Linked DNA regions of Homo sapiens: region 1 is linked to region 2. Evidence: fine-mapped expression QTL. A gene starts in region 2. The other region holds a variant in brackets. All regions are shown on one strand. Distances are from middle to middle.

Region 1 (2,910 bases), 43 kb before region 2:
GGGAGGGAGGGAGGGAGGGAGGGAAGGAAGGAAGGAAGGAAGGAAGGAAGGAAGGAAGGAAGGAAGGAAGGAAGGGCAAGACCCTGTCTAAAGAAAGAAAGAAGGAAGGAAGGAAGAGAGAGAGAGGGAGGGAGGGAGGAAGGGAGGAAGGGAAGCGGGGAGGGAGGGAAAGGAAGAAAGGAAGGAAGGAAGGAAGGGTGTTAAGTGTTCTTTAAACATTTGACTGAATTCACCAGTGAAACAACATGGTCCTGGGATTTTCTTTGTGGAACTTTTTTATTTTTAATGAGTAATTCAGTCTCTTTTCTTGTTATGGGTTTATTTAATTTTTTAAAATTTCCTCTTGAGTCAGTTTCAGTAGCTTGTGTCGTTCTAGGAATTCTTATATTTCATCTAGATTATCTAATTATTGGCATGCAATTTTCATAATATTCCCTTATAATCATTTTTATTTCTGTGAGCCTGATGATAACATTCTTTGTTTTATTCCTGATTTTAGCAATTTAAGTCTTCTCTCTCTCTCTCATTTTATTTTTATTTTTGAAAGCAATTTTATAACTTTATTTGATGTATCTGACTATCAGCAGTTAGTTCTCATCCACATTGCCTGTAGATTTTTGAAAGCGGTAACGGGTACATTGGTAACCAAAGTATAGAGCTTATTTGGTGAATCTTCATCCTCATTATGTTTTCTGGACAACCGCATACGGATAAGGTCTTGGACATTCCTTATTCCTTTGGCCCAGACAGCTTTGTTGAGTCTAGTATCAATGCGCACATCTGGAGTTCCCATCTCCTTCATGGCAAATTTCCAGATCTCTTTGCATGCCCAAGGGGAACGCTTCTTGAAGCCCACTCCGTGGATGCACCTGTGAAGGTTGACGGTGTATTCTCGGTCACCACCTTGTTGATGACAGAACAGCCCTTTTTCTTCTCGCCACCCTTCTTTGCGGGCCATTCTGCTGGGCCCAAGTTGGAAAGCTTTATTTATTTATTTATTTGAGACAGGGTCTTGCTCTATTGCCCAGGCTGAAGTGAAGTATGTGCATAGCTCACTGCAGCCTTGAGCTCCTGGGCTCAAGCGATCCTTCTGCCTCAGCCTACTGAGTAACTAGGACTACAGGTACATGCCACCATGCCAGCTCAGCTAATTTTTTGAATTTTGTTTTGTGTAGACACATCTCACTTTTGTTGCCCAGCCTGGTCTCAAACTTCTGGCTTTGACCAGGAATGGTAGCTCACACCTGTAATCCTAGCACTTTGGAAGGCTGAGGCAGGTGGATTGCTTGAGTCCAGGAGTCCAAGACCAGCCTGAGCAACAGGGCGAAATCCCTGTCTACAAAAAATACAAAAATTAGCCAGGTGTGGTGGTTCACACCTATAGTCCCAGCTACTAGGGAGGCTGAGTTGGGAGGATCGCTTAAGCCCAGCAGTTCGAGGTTGCAGTGAATGGCATGTCACTGCACTCCAGCCTGGGCAACAGAGTGAGACACTGTCTCAAAGAAAAGCCAAAAAATCCCCCCAAAAAGTCCTGGCTTCAAATGATCCTCCTGCCTCAGCCTCCCAAACTGTTGGGATTACAGGCATGAGCCAGCAGGCCCAGCTGAGTCTTCTCTCTTTTTATCTTGGTCCATCTAGCTAAAATTTTGTCAATTTTGTTCATCTTTTCAAAGAATCAACTTTTGGTTTCATTGATTTTATCTATTATTTTTTCATTCCTTATTTCATTTATTTCCAGTCTAGTCCCATGCTGGAGTGCAGTACCCCGATCATAGCTCACTGCAGCCTCAAGCTCCTGGGCTCAAGTGATCCTCCCATCTCAGCCTTCTAAGTAACTGGGACTACAGGAAATTGTCACCATGCCTGGCTA[A/AT]TTTTTTTTTTTTTTTGGTTTGTTTTTTGGGTAGAGATGGGTCTTATGTTGACCAGGTTGGCCTCAAATTCCTGGCCTCAAGTGATCTTCCCATCTCAGCCTTCCAAGTAGCTAGGACTACAGGCAAGTGTCACCATGCCTGGCTATTTTTTTTTTTTTTTTTTTTTTTTTTTGTAGAGATGGGTCTTACTATGTTGACCAGGTGGGTTTCAAATTCCTGGCCTCGAGTGATCTTCCCGCCTTAGCCTCCCAAAATGTTGTGATAATAGACATAAGCCACAGCTCCTAGATGCTTTTTTTCTTTGGTTTAGGCTATTGATTTGAGGTCTTTTTTCTTTTTAAAATTTATTCATTTACAGCTATAAAATTCCCTCTAAGCACTGGTTTAGCTGCATTGCATAAAATTTTAATAGGTTTTGTTTTTATTTTTATTTATTTCAAAGTGTTGTCTAACATCCCTGTAATTTCTTCTTTGATTCATTGTTTATTTAGGAATATGTTTTTTATTTTCCACATATTTGTGAATTTCTCATTTTCTTCTGTGATTAATTTCTAATTTTATTCCATTATGATTACAAAACATACTTTGCATTATTACAATACTTTAAAATTTATGAGTTATTTTTTGGCCTAAAATATATTTTATACTGAAAAATTTTTTCATGTACACTTTATTTTTATTTATTTTTTTAGACGGAGTCTCACTCTGTTGCTCAGGCTGGAGTACAGTGGTGCAATCTCAGCTCACTGCAACATCTGCCTCTCAGGTTCAAGTGATTCTCGTGCCTCAGCCACCCCAGTAGCTGGGATTACAGGCGCTGAGGTGGAGTCTCACTCTGTTGCCCAGGCTGGAGTGCAGTGGCACAATCTCAGCTCACTGCAACCTCTGCCTCTCAGGTTCAAGCAATTCTCTTGCCTTAACCTCCCAAGTAGCTGGGATTACAGGCATGCGCCACCACACCTGGCTAATTCTTATAGTTTTAGTAGAGAAGGGGCTTAGCCATGTTGGCTAGGCTGGTCTCGAACTCCTGGCCTCAAAA
Region 2 (2,855 bases):
CATGGCAACTCTGCAATTGTTAGCCTACAACTTGGGCAAAGGCACTATCCAGAATCAGGACTCCAAAATCATCACGGGCTTTTTCCTCAGTGTAGATGAGTCACAGGGGTAGTAACTTAACTATTCCTTTCCTTAAACCTTCTTTTCCTTGTAACAGCAGAATCTGGGGAGGTTAATTAATCCTTCACAGGAAAGCTGGCAGGCAGGGTCTCATGCTGGCCCCACTAGCTTGGCCTTACCCCACCTTTCTGGGCCTGCTGCCTCAACAGAAACCCTCATCTCTAGCCCACCATTTGTGACTTTTACAACTTCACCAGCGTGCCGGGATGCGAGAAAGGTACTGGTAAATAACTAGTGATTCCAAAGCAACCAGCCTCTCTCTTCTGCCTTAGCTATCCCAAGCCACAACCTAACGGGAGGCGATGTTTTGGCTTTTTTTCCCACTTCTACCATGTTCAAGGTTTACTTTTTAAATTGAGGGGTGCTGACTAGAGGGATTGGTGACTTTAGACGATCCACTATCTCCATTGCTCGGAGCACCTGAGGTTCTGGGGCCTAAAGTCTGGAGATTTCAGAATAAAGAAGGCACAAGTCAGGATGAGAAGAGAAAGCAGAGATAGGAGGGGAGAGCCTGGGGGTTGTCACAATCTGAAAGGGCCAGAGGGCGAGAAAAGAGTGTTTGCAGGGACTGGGTGGAACAGGTGAAAAGCAGCACTCCAGGATCTAACTTTGGCCAGCTCCAAGGTATCCTCCCCCTGCGAGACATCCAAGATGGCGCCAGGCCCGCGCGGTTGGAGGTCACCGGCACGCGGAAGAGCCAACTCTAAGGCTAAGGGATAGCGGAAGCAAGAAAGGGCGAGAGGACCAGGGTGGGAGCACGCAAGGTAAGCGCCTCAAAGCATCCGCGCAAGGTGAGGTGTCCCGCGCGCGTGCGCAGCGCACAGAGGGCTCTAGGTCCCAAGGCCTTACCTGCTCCCACTGCAGAGAAGACAGAGAGGGGCGGAGCAGCGGGAAGAGCGAAAGGAAGGCTCAGCGCATGCGTGACCCGGGCCAACGAGTCGCTCAGCCACGGATAGAGTGATTGCAACATACAGGATCAGCTCAGGCATCACAGCGCCGCCTGCCAGGGCTGTGGCGGTATCCGGCCGGTTGCTCCACCTGGCGTTCGAGAGGAGAAACTACAGGGAGCGCCGACTGCAGAAATGAGGCCAACTCCGCGGAGTAAGCCGATCCGTAACGTGGACTGCGGTTTGGTCTGTACCGCGTTTGGGATCTCGGACTTGCGTCCCCTTTCCGAGCATGCGCAGTCGTCACACTGCCAAAACAAAACTCCTACTCAGAATTCAGTGTTAACATACGGTCGGGATTGGGGTTCAGTGCCTAAAATGCAGCAGGAGGAAGATCTTGGGAGTCCTGCTTTCTGTCGCGCCGGGACTCTGGCATCACTGGATGGCAAACCGGCTCCATGGGCGAATAGTCAGCAAAATGCCGCAGCTGCTTCTGGTGGCTTCGCCCTTTCCCCCACTCCCCGTTTCCTCCTTTCCATTCCGGTGATAAACCATGAGAGAAGCAGCATCAGCGAGCCAGAAGATAGGGTTAAATATGATCCGAATCCCTCTTTCCTGGCTCCTGGGACAGTCTAGGAATAACGGGCACCTGCGACCCGCTGTAAGGTTGCGAGGTCACTCCAGGCTTGCCCGAGCCTCTGCTCAGGTTTCAACTACGCGAGTTGGGATAAGCAGCGCCCTCCCCTCCCGCCCCCATGCTCTCCTGAACGTGGGTTTTCTCTCCCCTTTCGCTCGCCCTTCCCCTGATGGAAGGAGGTGGGGGAGGCTTCCTGGCCCTCATCTTTCCTAGGCCTCCTTGTCTCCCAGACAGGACCTGCCCTGCCCTTTGGAACAGGGCGACAAGGCCTATCCAGTTCCAAACCCCTGCCGTCCCTGCATCGTGCTTGAACGCAGCACGAGAAAGACGGGAAAAGCTCACCAAACCCCATAAAAAATAAAAAATAAAAAGAAAGCCGCGGCTGTAAATAAAGGCAAATCCGCCACTCTCTGAGGGGCCGTTTGTCCTCCCCTCCTTGGCCCCGTCCTTCCCGCCGCCCCCTCCCGGCTCCCGGGCCCCGCGGCGCCCCGGCCCCGAGCTCCTCCATTTAATCGGATTTGGGAGAAGGGGAGGATAAATCACGGCAGCAGCTTTACGGTCCCGGAGGAGAGGCGAGCCGCAGACAGGCACACCCCGGCCGGCGATAAAAACCGCCGCTGAAAGCCCACGGAGCAATTTCCCGGGACCCCGAGCGACGCCATTACAGGAATGTAATTTTGCCCGGATGAGGCCCCGAGTTTAATTATCCTCGCGGAGGAATTTCAATGCGGCCAATCCATCTTGCAGGCGGGCGGCAGAGGGATTTATATGGGCCCGTTATTTCACACCGATCCTCCATCTGCATTTTTATGGCCCTGAGCTCCTGAAAGGGAGGGGAAGGAGTGGGGAGAAATAGGAGAAGCGGGCGAGAAGAGGAGGGTGGTAGACTGCCTGTCTTTCCTAAATTCGCATTTCCAGCTCCATCAGGATTCTCACAGGTTCCTCTGAAATCCCCAAATCTCCAGTTTTAGTTGTTGATTGCGCCCCGAGCGGGCAGGTACGTGGGAAATGGAACTGGGATCTTTGGGAATCAATCAACAGGTATTTATCAAGTACCAAGTGGTGCCAGGCACTGTGGAGATGCTGTTAGGAGAAAGACAGGCTAGCAAAGACACAAGTTTATCCCCTGAGGTCTCCAGACATCTCCATTCCCACCAAAACGGAATTCTTTTAAGCTGTCAGCTTCACATCCTCAGTGGCAGAGAAAGTCC

Direction of the effects. Alleles are on the strand shown, and positions count from the first base shown. SD is a standard deviation of normalised expression in the study named.
For the expression in prefrontal cortex of the gene that starts at base 1,000 in region 2, A is the low allele of the variant in region 1 and AT is the other (small effect, 0.23 SD a copy in CommonMind).

What was found. PIP is the estimated chance that this variant, and not a neighbour inherited with it, causes the effect.
Region 1: its variant is the best candidate, but not a certain one, in a credible set for the expression of ATP5MC2 in prefrontal cortex (CommonMind, PIP 0.53).

What each region holds. Positions count from the first base shown.
Region 1 is chr12:53,632,198-53,635,107 of GRCh38, forward strand. It overlaps the pseudogene RPL31P51. Among named protein-coding and RNA genes, the nearest start is that of ATF7-NPFF, 7.3 kb to the left of the region's middle. The variant A/AT (reference allele first, on the strand shown) is at 1,871.
Region 2 is chr12:53,675,084-53,677,938 of GRCh38, forward strand. It overlaps ATP5MC2 (ATP synthase membrane subunit c locus 2), which reads right to left and starts at 1,000. Exons shown (of 5, transcript NM_005176.7): 1 at 970-1,000. RefSeq lists enhancers at 702-1,151, 1,262-1,491.